2 linked regions of the Homo sapiens genome follow. The protein of the gene in region 2 interacts with the protein of the main gene of each other region in a biochemical or structural test. Each region holds a gene or a part of one and is shown on either strand. Other genes may lie near its edges.

Region 1 (7,510 bases), on a different chromosome or scaffold from region 2:
GAAAGAGGACATGCCTTTCAATCCATTACGTGTCATGGTTTCATTGCAAGCAGTTTTTCTAAGAGATACATAAAATAACAGTGCATCTTAGCATCATTGGCATCTGGCGTTCGATGGAATACAGTGGGTACATGTGAGCAAAGTGTGTTGAAAAGGCAACATCTGTTACTCCGTTCTTATTTCTCCATTAACTGCGATTATGAAATTAAATCTGCATCCTAATGGAAAACCCCTCACTCCCACCCCACATATCCTACTTATTTATACATCTATTTAGTCAACAAATGCGGATGCATCTATTCAGTTATCAAATACGTATTAGTGATCTGTTCTGGGCCAGGCACTGAGCTAGATAATGGGAAAAGAGTAGTAAATACGATTCAGTCACACTTGAAATTGTAGCAAATTCTCACACATGTGTGAGAAAGCTGTGCTTTTCTGACTAAATAACATGAATCAAAACGTAGGCCTTAAAAATACAAACTCAGCCAGGCTCACACTTGTAATTCCAACATTTTGGGAAGCCGAGGCAAGAGGATTACTTGAGGCCAGGAGTTTGAGACCAGCCTGGGCAACAGAATGAAACCTCACCTCTATAAAAGAAAATTTTTTTAAATTATCCATGCTTGGTGGCACACACCTGTAGACCCAACTACTAGAGGGAGGCTGAGGCGGGAGGATCACCTGAGCCCGGGAGGTTGGGGCTGCAGTGAGCTATGATCGCGTCACTTCACTCCAGCCTGGGTGACAGAGTAAGACCTTGTCTCAAAAAAAAAACAAAAAAAAAAAAAAACGAAAAAAAAAACTGTGAGAAACGATATGGCTAACAACTAGGTTTGTTCAATTGTAAAAAAAAAAAAATGTTTTAAGAGGTAATATAGGAGAAACATATATCCTTAAAAAATACTTAAAAGACATTCAAAAATCACATGTGGATTTTATATGGGTCTTAATTTAAGTAACAAACTACACGAATGTTATAACATGTATGAAACAACTGAAACTCTGACCACTGGCTGGATATTCACTGATATTGAGAAATTACTGTGAACTTTTTCAGGTACAGTAATGACATCATGGTATTTTTACAGAGCACTTATCTTTTAAATATATATACTGAACTATTATGGAAGAAATGCTATGAGGTTTGGAATTTGCTTCAAATTCCAAAAAATAGTTCAAAAAAAAGCTGAACTATAAAAAATTGTTTTGGGGCCGAGTGCCGTGGCTCACGCCTGTATTCCCAGCACTTTGGGAGACTGAGGTGGGCGAATCACTTAAGGTCAGGAGTTCAAGACCAGCCTGTCCAACATGGTGAAACCCCATCTCTACTAAAAATACAAAAATTAGCTGGGCATGGTGGCACGTGTTTGTAGTCTCAGCTACTCGGGAGGTTGAGGCAGGAGAATCGCTTGAACCCAGGAGGCGGAGGTTGCAATGAGCCAAGATCGCGCCATTGCACTCCAGCCTGTGCCAATAGAGCAAAACTCCATCTCAGTTTAAAAAAAATTAAATAAATAAATTACTTCTGTAAGTCAAAAATGGTTGAAGGGCTGCAATTTCATGTTAGAAGTCAGGAAATGGGAGGGGCTATTGATGAAGCAAAACTGGCCAGGAGCTGATTAAGGTTAAAATTAATCTGAATGATGGCCTATGGGGTAAATTTTACTCAACTGTCTCCTTCCTATGTGCATAAAATCTTTCCACAATGAAAAGTTAAAACAAAATTAGGCCTTTAATACAGTACAATATTTAAATTTAGTTAAAAATAAAAACTAGTAAAAGTGAAACTGAAAGCATCACTGCAAAAACACCCTCCGCCTAAATTTCTTCATCTGCAAAGGGAGGCCAGGGAGCTCGACAATCTCTCTGAGATCCCTGGGTCTGTGACCGCAGTGTATGCTCTCTGCTCAGCCACTGAAGCTCGTCCCCAGTTTTGCAGGGCATATTCGGCTCTTCTCTTACTATTTAACAAGGGCCACCTAATCTATGCATAAAGATCCTCAGACTGTAGGGGAGTTCAGACGACACAGCCTAGTGAGAAGCTGACACACACATGCACATCCCATGGAAAACCCTTGTGGGGTGTGAGAGATGATTCTACAGTGGACAGAAGGCAGCCATTGAGAGCTGTTCTGATAGAGTGCTGACATTGACCACTCTGTCCCCCACCAAAGGGCCTGTGACGGAATGTCTGTAACATAGAGTTCATACATTGTATAGAGGTCTATAACATTTAATACATATTAAAGTATACTTAATAGCCTGAAAATATACTTAATAGTATGAGAATAAGCTGTTGTGGAGTTTAGCTGGCACAAAATGACCACTGGCAACGGCTGTGGTGGCCAGATGGAGGCCTCAGCCTGCCGAGCACAGTGAGAATCTGTGACTTCATTCATAAATTTCCCAGAGAAACGGGATGAGGCAGGGCCCTGTGTACCTCCATGTCTGCAAGTGGATACATGCTGAAGAGCAAACATGTAAAGCACAGAAGACACAAGCAAAGGAAGAAAGAGGACACACTGAGGTCCTGTGACTCATCTTTACAAGGCAGAATATGAGTCATTAATAGGATCCCAACTTTGGCTTTCTCTCTGAATCACCCAAGATTACCTTGATGTGCTTAACTTTGTCTTCTTTTTCTGTCTTTGGTTTCTTTCCTGTGGCAACAAAAATGTAGTTTTGGATTAATTCACGAAGGGCCTCCAGAGAAACATTTCCCTCAAATTAAATTCTTTCTGAAACTCTCAATGAACCTGTTGCTTTAATCTGTACATGGTCAAAATTCCACATGTATCTTTCACTGCCTCTGGTGAATCGAAAGTCTTGTTTCCAAGCCAGGTAGGGGCGGAATGATCCCCTACAGCATGAACAGGCTATTCTACCTGCAAACTGACTGCAGATGTAGAAATGAAGAGATCACGAAGGCACGATGACACAAATTGATTTACCTTATTTTAGTCTGTAAATGCCTTTACCTTTCTTAGAAGGCCGTTCTGATAGGGGCAGCATTCGGTAGACCCTGAAGGCATTATTTCCTTTCTTTATGCTTTTATCCTTGACTTCTTCAATATCAGGCAAGGAATTCATGGCGCATCTGAAATTCGCCTTCCATGTTTTGGGATCAGGTTTATCTACTCCTGGTTGATGCTTTCCTAACAAAAGAGACAAAGATTAAGAAAAAGAGAGAAAACATTAGATACAGAGGAAGGAATTTCTGGAAACACAGTATTGCTGGTCAGGCAGTATAAGGAAACCTTTTCACTCCATGCTATACCTCCAGTGACCAATCGTCCTGGTGTACCTGGGGGTGAGAAAGTTCTTGGGATGTGGGAATTTTGTTTTTAAAACCTGAACAGTTCCAGTCAAACTGGGACAAGTTGGTCACCCTGGTTCTACTGAACAGCTTGAGGAAACTATAAATGCTGGAAGAATGGAGCATCAGCGTAAGAAAAATATAGAAGACTGAGAGGCTGCAAAGTCAACAGGCAGAGGGAAGCTGAGTGCCTCTTTTTCATCTGACGCTCCAACAAAGTCCATTCCTGTAAACAGCTCCCTACGTAAAGGTTGTAATAAATACAGGTATTTCTGACTACCTTTTTGGGGGGGAGATAAATTTGACCAAAGTTTATAGCATCAGAACAACTGAGTTTCTATTCCCCGGTAACACCTAGGGAACTTCTTAGAATACCACATTTATAGGAAATTGAAGGACTAAGAGTGTATGGGATGAGGGGAGCATTACTTCTGAGGGCTGCAGTTTGTACCCCATGTGTCCTGGATGTGCCTAGGGACAAGTCACAGGTTTTTCAGAGCCATCTTCATGAGGTCATAAGCCAGGCTATTTTATGTGTAATAAAAACAAAACTAAGCAAGAGTGCCTTCCTCTATAAACGCCGCAGGGAGTTTTAGTACCTGTATGGATTGCCCAGTTTCTAAAGAGTGGTGCATCTTTTTCCACATCCCACCCATGTCTAGCCGCATGCATCCAGGGGATCTGAAAAATCTTCTTTTCCTGAAAAAAAAAAAAAAAAAAAAGGTAAAGAACTGGAGTCATGGGTTTTGGCCCACCATTGCAAAAGGTTGTGAAGGTCTAGCCAGCAAGATTCCCCAGCAAGCATCGCTGAATGTGTTGACTGCTGACAAGAAAATCTACTGTAAACCAAACCCACTTCCCCCGCTGGATCCCAAATCTTGATAGACTACCCCGAGTGACAGTCAGTCTCGTGAAGTCTTGCAGAGCAGGAATGTTTTCCAAGGTCAAAGGTGATGATTTGACCTTGTGTGTTCCATTATTTGTGCCTCTTTTCTAGTTTTCAATATATTTTTTTGGAGACAGAGTCTCGCTCTGTTGCCCAGGCTGCAGTGTAGTGGCGCGATATCGGCTCACTACAACCTCCACCTCCTGGGTTCAAGAGATTCTCCCACCTCAGCCTCCTGAGTAGCTAGGATTACTGGCATGTGCCACCACGCCTGGCCAAGTTTTGTATTTTTGGTAGAGATGGGGTTTTGCCATGCTGGCCAGGCTGGTCTCGAACTCCTGACCTCAAGTGATCTGCCCACCTCAGGCTTCCAAACTGCTGAGATTACAGGTGTGAGCCACCACACCCGGCCCTGTGCCTCTTTTTTTTATAAAACCACAGAAAAATGGCCACCTACCGAAACTTCTAATGCTTACTCTTATAATTTATTCTCGTCGTTTGGTAAATAGTAACTCCAGCTATCTTAGGTAAATTAAAAATTAGACAAGTTTCCAAAACCCTTGATGCTACTAAAGAAAAGTCGGGTACATCTGAGGCCACTGTCACAGAAACCAAATATCTCCATTTGCTTGTGCATCCAACAGAAATAGAAAGTAATGTTCGAATCCCTGTGGGTCTACTGCCTGCAAGAAATAGCAAGAAGTGCAAACAAAGAGGTAGAGGTTATGAAATGACACATTTTTCTGGAGAAACATCCCTCAATACAATCCTTATATCAGACTATCTCTACATCTCTCTCAGTGTTGAGGTCTGTAACTCAAAACCGCCTCAAGCAACCCTGAAAAACACATGATTGGAAACCCATGGTTTAGTAACAAAGCCGTACTCTTAGTAAAGCTACAGATGAGGAACCTGGCCCAAGCAGCTCTTGTGGCGGTACCGGCAGGTACTAAGGTCCCATTGGCACTGTGCATCTGACTACCCACATCCACAGGGACCTCAGTTTTGTCTTCCTCCCACAGCCTACTGAGTGAGGTATATGTTACGATTTCCATTTTATAGCTGAGGAAACCAAGAAGCAGATTTTAACTATTTAGTCAAGGAACTTGCAGGATAATAAGTGTCTAAGTTCAAAACCCAGGTCATGCGACTCCATATGCTATTACTTAATCACCCACTCATTGTCTCCCAGCTTTTAGATTTGGAAGAGTCCCTGTCCTATGACAGACCAGTTGAGACCTGGATTCTGTGGAGATTAAAGCCCAGGAGGTTGTACTCTTTCAAAGCTCTCAAGGCAGTTCTGGTAATTGCTAGGTATGCGGATCCCTGCACTAGATGCTGAGGAAGGAGAGGAAATGTCAGCAGGGAGTTTCCACCACTTCAGTCTCACATAGTGAAACACAGAAAGGGTCCCAGCTGTCCCCAAAGAGATTCAGCGCCTCTCCACAGAACCAATCACAAAGCCAGAACAAAGACTATTTCAGAACATTGGAGAGTTTCCCAAAACCTGTTAAAAGGAAAATTCTACCATCTTCTAAAAAGTCAGTTATTAAAGGAGAACTGAAAGTGAGAGACTTTTTCATAAATTCCTCGGTGTTCATTCTGTATCATCCACAGAGAGGGCTTCGGGTTAGCCAATTTCAAAAGGACAGTGATCAGAAAGGGGCTGAGTGACATTTTATGCTTTAATGTAGATGAAAATCGACAGCAAAATCACTTAATGCCATTTATTGATGTTCACATGAAAATGAATACAAGTGAAAATTCATTTCGTGAAAGAGCTTTTCCTGAAGTGCATGCCCAGAATCTAAAGCTTTATGCTTAAACACCGAGATTCTTAAGAATTTGCTGTTGCACTTTTTTCTAGATCAAAGGAGTTCTAGGGTGACACAATCTGAAATCTAACTTGCAAGACACAAAATTGATACAGATAAAGTAGATCTTTTTAAGCATCTGCACGCATGCATGCATACACATACACACACACACAACCAAACCTAGTCCCACAGAAACCGCAAAAGCCATGCAACTACAAAAGCGCTGACCAAACCCAGCAACATACACTATGGACCCTCTTGAAATGTGCAACAGGCCTGAGTAGACTGGAATAGTTCAGGTGTTTGTCCCCTCAAAATCTCGTGTTAAAATTTGATCGCTAGTGTTGCAGGTGGGGTCTGGTGGACGGTGTTTGGGTCATGGGGCAGGATCCCTCAAGAATGGCTTGGTGTCGTTCTCGTGGTAATGAGTAAGCTCTCACTCCATTAGCTCCGGTGAGAGCTGATTATTCAAAACAGCCTGTCGCCTGCACCATTCTCTCTTCCTCCCTCTCTTGCCATGTAATGCCCTTTGCCTCCCATCCTGAGGCCTTAACAGAGGCAGATGCCAAGGTCATGCTTCTTGTACAGCCTAGAACCCTGACCCAAAGAAGCCTCGTTTTTTTATAAATTACCCAGCCCCAGGTAGTCCTTTGTAGCAACATGAAACAGACTAACCCACAGACATGTCTCCAAAAAAAGATACACAAATAACAAACGTTGGTGAGGATGTGGAGAAACTGGAATCCTCACACATCGCTGTGGAAATGCAAAATGGTACAGCCACTCTGGAGAAAAAGTTTGGCCATTCCTCAAGAAAGTGAAACACAGAATTACCTGATGATCCAGGAATTTTACACCTGGATATATACCCAAAGAATTCTAAGCCAACATTCAAACCAAAACATAAACGTTCATAGCAGCACTACTTTCAAAAGCCAAAAGATGGAAACAACCCGAGTGTCCATCAGCTGATGAATGGGTAAACAAAATGTGGTATATCCATACAATGGAATATTATTCAGCCACAAAAAGGAATAGAGTATTGACACATGCTACCATGTGGACGAACCTTGAAAACATTATGCTGGATGAAAGAAGCCAGACACAAAAGGCCAAAAATTGAATGATTCCATTTACATGAAATATTCCAGAAAAGACAGAGAGCAGAGAGCAGACAGAGAGCAGAGATCCATAGAGACAGAGAGCAGATTACTGGTTGCCACAAGCTAGGGGGGAGGGAAATGGGAAGTGACTGATTAATGGGTACAGCATTTCCTTTTGGAGGGATAAAAAGTTCTGGAACTGGACAGTGGTGATGGCTGCATGACATCGTGAATGTCACTTTAAAATGGTAAATATTTTTTAAACTACATGTCACCTTTACCTAGTTTTTCATACTTCAGGAAAAAAAAGAAAAGACTAATAAACTTATCAGAAATATCTTTAAAATTGTATCACAGATTCTTTTTTTGAAGAAGACCATATGAA
Region 2 (8,020 bases):
ATGTACTATAAATAGAAATCAATCTCGGAAGTAAAATATATACTTACTCTCCTAATATCATCCAGTGTGTGTATTTCTGGTGAAAGTCCACCATGAACACAAAGAAACTGTTGGTTTAAAAGTGCAGCAAGAGGCAAACTATCAAAAGCTTCCATACAAGCTTCATAGACTCTTTCCGAATACTTAATTTTACCTAGAAAAACAAAAAACTAATTGAAAATTACATTACTGGTGGTGGTGTGACCATTTTAAAAACATATATATTAGATTTTTATTTCTTGTTCTCTCCCCTCCTTTATATCTTATAGCTATTTATAATGAAATTGAGATAGTTACAGTTTCAACTGTAGTAATAGCCCAGACAGACAGACAGACAGATGGCAAGAAAATTATAGACAGTAAACAGCAAAGTGGTGGCCAGGGCTTCAGAGTGAGTGAAGGGGTGACTATAAAAAGGTAGCAAGAGAGAACTTATGGCATGATAAAACTTTTCTGTATCATGATAGTGGTAGTGGGCAACTCTATGCAGTGTCAAAAGTCACAGAAGTAAATACCACAGAGAATAAATCTTACTGCACACAATTTTTTTAAGGAAAGCATCTTCCCCTATAAGAATCAACAAAAATATGCAAAGTTATCTGTCTTATGAAGACAAAATATTTGCTCTCTCTAAAATTATTCTCGATGATGTTATGTCTTATGAAGCAAAATATTTGCTCTCTAAAATTATTTTGGATGACAGAAAAGTCATCACGTATTGTTAAAAATAAGTCAGTCAAATCTCTAAAAACAGGCCAGGCACGGTGGCTCACGCCTGTAATCCCAGCACTTTGACAGGCCAAAGCAGGCAGATCGCTTGAGGCCAGGAGTTTGAGACCAGTCTGGCCAACATGGCAGAACACTGTCTCTACTAAAAATACAAAAATTAGCCAGGCATGCTGGTGTGCACCTGTAATCCCAGAGACTCAATGGGTGAGGAACAAGAATCACTTGAACCCAGGAGGTGGAGGCTGCAGTGGGCCGAGATCGTGCCACTTGCACTCCAGCCTGGGCGACAGAGCAAGACTCTGTCTCAAAAAAAAAAAAAAAAGAAAGAAATCTCTTAAAAACAGCTCAACCCTTCACCTTTATCGGCCAAATAAGGCAAAATTAGAACTGTACTTGAGGTTAAAATCATTTTAATACTTGCTTTATTTTATTCTAAGAGTCAATGACTACTTTATTCTTATTACAGGCAAGATGACTACATCATCACAACAAAATTCAAGGTTCATCCATTTTTTCTGAAAAATAAAAGATAATAGCATGCTCATGTCAGAAAAGCTGAGGGGTTCCTCTTGCCTACAATGAATACTTTAAAATGGGCAGTGAAGCAGGAAGCCAATATAGAAACACAAGAAAGACAAAACTCTACCAAATCAAACTATCATTTACTTTTAGAGAGATATCATGCACTTTCATTTGCTCCTTTACAACTTTAAATTCCTATTTTGGTTTTGATGAGATTTTGGTAGGTGGTTTGTTATTTATCTAGGCAAAGAAAAAGAACTTAGTTCCTATTTCCTGTTTTAATACTGTAATATTCAAATATTAAAAAAACTATATATATATCCAGCAACCAGAGATTCTACACTGGCAGTCTGCTAACGACTCTGTTTTCTAGCACTGTGGTTTAATAAAAATTCTAATTTGACTGCTTTTAGGTCAAGCATGCACTTTCCAGGTCTTATCTTACTCATTTAGGTTAACTGCCTGATCCTTGAAGTTATAAGAGTATGCCACTTCTGCCACTACCCATCACTGTATTTTTCTCCTGTTGCTGCAAGTCTCTACTTAGTATGACCTTTATTGGATCATGTTTTGAGTCTCAAAACGTTGAAATTATTTCTGCTTTTAGAATTTAACTCTACTTAATACAGTCATAAATATTAACTTAAAAAGCACAAAGGCAGGCCAGATGCGGTGGTTCACACCTGTAATCCCAGCACTTTGGGAGGACGAGGCAGGTGGATTACTTGAGGTCAGGAGTTAAGAGACCAGCCTGGCCAACATGGTGAAACACCGCCTCTACCAAAAATACAAAAATTAGCAGGACGTGGTGGCGCATGCCTGTAATTTCAGCTACTTGGGAGGCTAAGGCAGGAGAATACTTGAACCCGGGAGGAGGTTGCTGTGAGCCGAGATTGTACCACTGCACTCCAGCCAGGGCGACAGAGCGAGACTGTCTCAAAAAAAAAATAAAAATAACAAAAATAATAAAAAAGCACAAAGGTTTGAGGTGTGAAAAAGGCCTAATCTTGTTCTGTAACATATGGTTACTTACAGGTATTAGATTACCATTGCTATAATAATTTGAGAGAGAAAAGGGATAAACATTGCAGGTTAAGAATTTCACCAACTGTACCTGACTAGTCTTAAAACAATGATATTTAAAAAAACAAAAAAATTTTAAGAAGAATTTCAATCATTAATAGCATGATTGAAATGATCTGCAATGGTAACAGGATAAACAATTTGTTAGGATTCCTCACAGGAATGCCTCAAGATTGAAGGACAAAAATCTCCAATGCAAAATAACATTTTTTTCTTTTGGTTTTTATTTTTTCCTGTTAGAAAAAATATATACATTTTTTTTTCCTGAGACAGAGTTTCGCTCTTGTTGCCCAGGCTGGAGTACAATGGCGCGATCTCGGCTCACTGCAACCTCCGCCTCCCAGGTTCAAGTGATTCTCCTGCCTCAGCCTCCTGAGTACCTGGGATTACAGGCACATGTCACCACGCCTGGCTAATTTTTGTATTTTTAGGAGATGGGGTTTTGCCGTGTTGGCCAGGCTGGTCTTGAACTCCTGACCTCAGGTGATCCACCCGCCTCGGCCTCCCAAAGTGCTGGGATTACAAGCGTGAGCTACCGTGCCTGGCTTAGAAAAATTAATTGTAACATTAAAACTTATATATAAAACTCTAAGTATGTTTGTAAAAGTTAAACATAATAAGAAATTCTGAAATGAAAAAAAATTTTTTTTTTTGAGACAGGGTCTGACTCTATTGCCCAGGCAATTGTCCGTGCAGTGGCATGATCTCAGCTCACTATGACCTCCGATTCCCAGGCTCAAGCGATCCTCCCACCTCAGCCTCCTGAGCAGCTGGGACTACAAGAGTGTGCCGCCACACCCAGCTAATTTTTTTTTTTTGTATTTTTGGTGGAGATGGGGTTTCACCATGTTGGCCAGGCTGGTCTCCAACTCCTGAGCTCAGGCAATCCCCCTGCCTGGGCCTCCCAAAGTGCTGGGATTACAGGCGTGAACCACCATGCCCCACCAAAAACTTCTTAATACCATTAAACACCAGAGAGTGCTCGACAACTTTCCTCAAAGCTTTATGTGTGGACATGAAATCTGTCCTTACATGTTGCACTGTAAAGTCTTCAAAACTCTTACTACCCACTTAAGTCCAAAAGAATACTGAGGAAGTGAAAACATTTCTTCTGGCAGTACTCACATTCCTGCTTAAAGGTAAAATATTCAGTAAGGTGTCTGCATTCATGGTTGCCTCTCAGAAGAAATAATGTGCTTGGGTATAGAATCTTCAGAACCCATAAATATAAGACACACTGCAAAAGAAAATTTTTCTAGTGAATTTATCTTGTACTTTTGTTTAATGAAGCTGCTTGATCTTTGCTCCTTTTCCTCTACTACCCTTACCATCCTCTATTATCTTTCTTTGTCCCTTACTAAAATATAAGCACCACAAAATCACAGATTTTGTCATCTTATTCACTTTTGATTCTCCACTCCCAGAAGAGTACCTAGCAAATAGGAGAAGAGCAATAAATATTTGTTGAATGAATGAGTCAAACAATCTATTTAATTACTTTGGATTTACAGACTGCCCAATATAAAAACAATTAGCACACTGGTCTACAGATGCGTATTAGTAAATAATACTGTCAAAATAACAGCAGCTAACATTTATTAAGTACTTACAATATGTGAAGCACTATATAATTCCCCTAATTTATTCCTCAAACAACACTATGAAGTATGTAATATCATCTTTATTTTACAAATGAGAAACTGAAGCAAAGATCTCAAGTAACTTGTCCAAAACCACAAAACTTCTAAGTGATGGAGATAGGATTCTGATCCTCTGATCTTAAGCATTATGCCATGCTGCCCATGAAGGGAAGGTCCATGTTTTATGTTTGTTTCATTGATTATGAATATTGCCTTACATATGGTAAGTGCTTATTATCTGAACTAATTCAATGCAAATGTAATTTTTCAAATAAAAATATTATTAAACATTATAGCAGATGCTATTCTCTAAATAGATTTAACATAAGAAAGAGACTCACATTTTACTTATTTGCTTAAAAAAGGAAGAAATATTTGATATGGAAATAAGCATGGTTTATATAATCATATGCAAAAAGAAAAAACAAACTTTTTTATTTTTAGAGACAAGGTCTCACTGTCACCCAGGTTGGAGTGCAATGGCACAATTACTGCTCACTGCAGCCTCGACCTTCTGGGCTCAAGAAATCCTCCTACCTCAGTCTCTTGAGCAGCTGGGACTACAGGCACATGCCACCAGGCCCAGCTAAGTTTTTTTTTTTTTTTTTGTGGAGACAGGGTTTCACCATGTTTCCCTGGCTGGTCTCGAACTCCCAGGTTCAAGCAATCTGCCTGACTTGGCCAACCTGTGCTGCGATTACAGGTGTGAGCCACCACACCCAACAAAACTTTATTGTTAATAAATTAAGGTATATCTAAACATGTAACTATTCATATCCTTCATTTTATTCAAAAGGGAAAAAAGTAATAAAATCAGGGAAATAATCTGTTCTCGATGCTTATTTTGATTCTTTGTTATTTTCCTTTTATAACAACAAAATGTATTAAAGGAGTCAGCTACATCCAGGCGCAGTGGCTCACGCCTGTAATCCCAGCACTTCGGGAGGCCGAGGCAGGCAGATCACCTGAGGCCAGGAGTTCGAGATCAGCTTGACCAACATGGCGAAACTCCATCTCTATTAAAAATACAAAAACTAGCCGGGAGTGGTGGTGGGCACCTGTAATCCCAACTACTTGGGAGGCTGAGGCAGGAGAATCTCTTGAACCTGGGAGGCAGAGGTTGCAGTGAGCCGAGATCACGCCACTACACTCCAGCCTGGGCGACAGAGTGAGAGTCCATCTCAATTAAAAAAAAAAAAAAAAAGAGTCAGCTGCAAAACAATCTTACACAAGGACATGCACACCAACTTAGTTACCAAATAAGCTTCATAAAACTGTTTATTTTATTGTTTTGGTCAAATGCCTGAAATTTTTTTGTTAAAATGGGCCATTTTCTGATTTGCCTGAAGCCCTGTGACAATTTGGGAAAAGTTGACGAGGCTAATAATCAACTATCAGCAGGAGGAAGAAGAACTCAAAATAGCAAAATTCCTAAGGGAAGCAGGACAGACAGAGTCTAGAACTTCCTTCCACTCTGAGAATCCTAGCACACCTCAGAAAAAAAGGTATATTGGAAACACTGGAGAAGGAGATATAAACAACAGTAACCAACATAAATTCACCAGGTAAGGTTTCAGTATCTACTAGGGAAGGTGGTTAAAAGCATATGCTGGGAGTCACATTGCCTGGCTATGCTGTTTACTAATAATACCTTGGGCAAGTTACTTAACCTCTCTAAGCCTCAGGTTCCTCATCTATAAAATGAATAAAACAACAGTACTTACCTCATTAATATTATTGTGAGGATTAATCGATATGTCTTCAGTGCCTAGAACATGCTTAGAACATATTAAATGTGCAACACAGGTATCTATTGGTAGAAATTTGACCCCACAATTCTACCTCTAGGAATTTGTCCTACAAAAATAATCAGGCAAGTATGTAAAGATGTATGAATAATATGACTCATTAAAGCATCATTTGTAAAGAAAAAAACTGGGAACATCTTCAGTGTCTAACACAAGGAATTAATTAATTATGGTTTGTTTATTAGATGGAAAACAATGTAGATATTAAAATGATGCTACGAGTTTATATTTACTGACTTGGAAGGATATTTGGTGTAGGCATGTATGAAAAAGCAAGTTACAGACAATATTATAATATGATCCCCTTTTCATTAAAAAAAGAAAAAATGTATATATTGGAAAATACATATTGTTCTACATTTGCTGCATTTTGTTTATATAATTTAAAAAGATGGCAGGGCAATGTGGCTCACATCTGTAATCTCAACACTTTGGGAGTCCAAGGCAGGAGGATCACTTGAGCCCAGGAGTTCAAGACCAGCCTGGGCAACATAGGAAACTCCATTGCTACAAAAAAATTAAAAATTAGTCTAGGCATGGTGGTGTGTACCTGTGGTCCCAGCTATTTGAGAGACTGGGACAGAAGGATCCCTTAAGCTCAAGAGGTCAAGGCTACATTGAGCCATGCTGGTGCCACTGTACTCCAGCATGGGCCACAGAGTAAGACCCTGTCTCAAAAAAAAAGAAAAAGAAAAGAGAAAAAGGAAGAAAAGGAACCATCTACTGTTAAGTGATAATCAAAAGGTCATTTTAATGCCTCAAGTTTTTAAAAACAAATTAATACTTTCCAAATACACAAAGATTCCATAGGATATACTTGAGTCTTAATAGCTACACAAGGAGAAACAGAAGCACTAGGGCTCAAGCAATAAAAAAATCACAATATACTTTATTTAATCAGACAGAATTCAAGTAATCTTTTTTCACATGGTTTAATGCCTTTAGGGGCAAGAGAGATAAATAGCACTAAATTTTTAAGGCCACTAGTTAACAGGGCAATAAAGACCCCTCAGTCAGCTCATAAATTCCACTGGGAAAAAAATGGCAATTATAATTATATAAACAGAGTTATACAAAGAAATTTATTTGAATTGTTTGAAAGACAGAACAGGAATAAATAGTAGCTTTTCATAAAAACTTCAGAATATGCAGAGTTATTAAAAAAACCTAACACAGGTACTTGTGAAAACTAGGATTAAGTGAAAGCATCTGTGTTAACACTTAACAGCAAATCAAATGACAGTTTATGATTATTACCTCTATACTAAAATAACCTCTGTCCACATAATCGCCAAGAAAAAGGTATCGTGTATTAGCAGGTGATCCTCCTACTTCAAAAAGTTTCATCAGATCAAAAAATTGGCCATGGATGTCACCACACACTGAAACAAGAAGATTATTAGATAAGGGAAAAAAATCTCTAAAACAACAAATTTTACTTAAGTTAAAACGTATTTTACATAAGACATAGTACAAATGCTATCAAGAAATGTCTGAGAAGGAAGTAGTCTATGAACAGTCATGATTAGGATGATGTGTAACCAAGTGTTCATGTGCTCAAGATCTAGAAAAAGATGTAACAGAAATAACGAAATTTGTGGTCAGTGACAAACTGAAATCTACATTTATAAAGATCGTCTCTAGGACTCCAAGGATGTGTTTTAAGTTTCAAGATGACAAAATTACAATGGTGGCAGTTAAAATATCCATTCTAACTCAATACTTTCTGTTGCTCTCTAAATGGTCACTTTTGGTATCTGATATGACATCAAGGTATTTGACCCTAACAATTGAAAGCAAAGTAAGTATTGATCAAATTGAAGTATGGTCAACACAATTGATGAAACCTTCACAAAAGCATATTAGACTAACTTCTACACTCAGATTATTTAGAATCATGTCTATTCACTGAAAACAGGCAATCATTTTTAAGTATGGAAAATAATTTGAAATTCAAGATAATGTCCAAGTAATATTGATTTAGCATACAGTATCATTGAAAACAGTAAGTTGTAAATCCAGGCAACTAAATAATGACATAATAAAAATAATACCCAAAACATGAATAAGCTTACCTGTGATTGGAGCTTCTACTTCTATCATGGTTTTCTCTCTCCGAAGGATGGCAGCACCCTCATTGATAATTCTAAGCGCAATTTCTTCATCTACTCGACCTTCTTTCACCAAGTGGTTCTTCAG

The links. Proteins that work in one complex are often made in the same cells at the same time.
Region 1: the proteins of PPP3CB (region 2) and IRF2 form a complex in vitro, tested with the Homo sapiens proteins (one study listed by BioGRID).

The regions. Positions count from the first base shown.
Region 1 is NC_000004.12:184,415,551-184,423,060, forward strand, and holds part of IRF2 (interferon regulatory factor 2), read right to left. Parts: intron 4,019-7,510; coding exon 3,919-4,018; intron 3,159-3,918; coding exon 2,982-3,158; intron 2,664-2,981; coding exon 2,617-2,663; intron 1-2,616. UniProt on the Homo sapiens protein: Specifically binds to the upstream regulatory region of type I IFN and IFN-inducible MHC class I genes (the interferon consensus sequence (ICS)) and represses those genes. Also acts as an activator for several genes including H4 and IL7.
Region 2 is NC_000010.11:73,471,421-73,479,440, forward strand, and holds part of PPP3CB (serine/threonine-protein phosphatase 2B catalytic subunit beta isoform), read right to left. Parts: coding exon 7,897-8,020; intron 7,204-7,896; coding exon 7,079-7,203; intron 5,792-7,078; coding exon of another isoform or gene 5,738-5,791; intron 3,611-5,737; coding exon 3,499-3,610; intron 194-3,498; coding exon 48-193; intron 1-47. UniProt on the Homo sapiens protein: Calcium-dependent, calmodulin-stimulated protein phosphatase which plays an essential role in the transduction of intracellular Ca(2+)-mediated signals.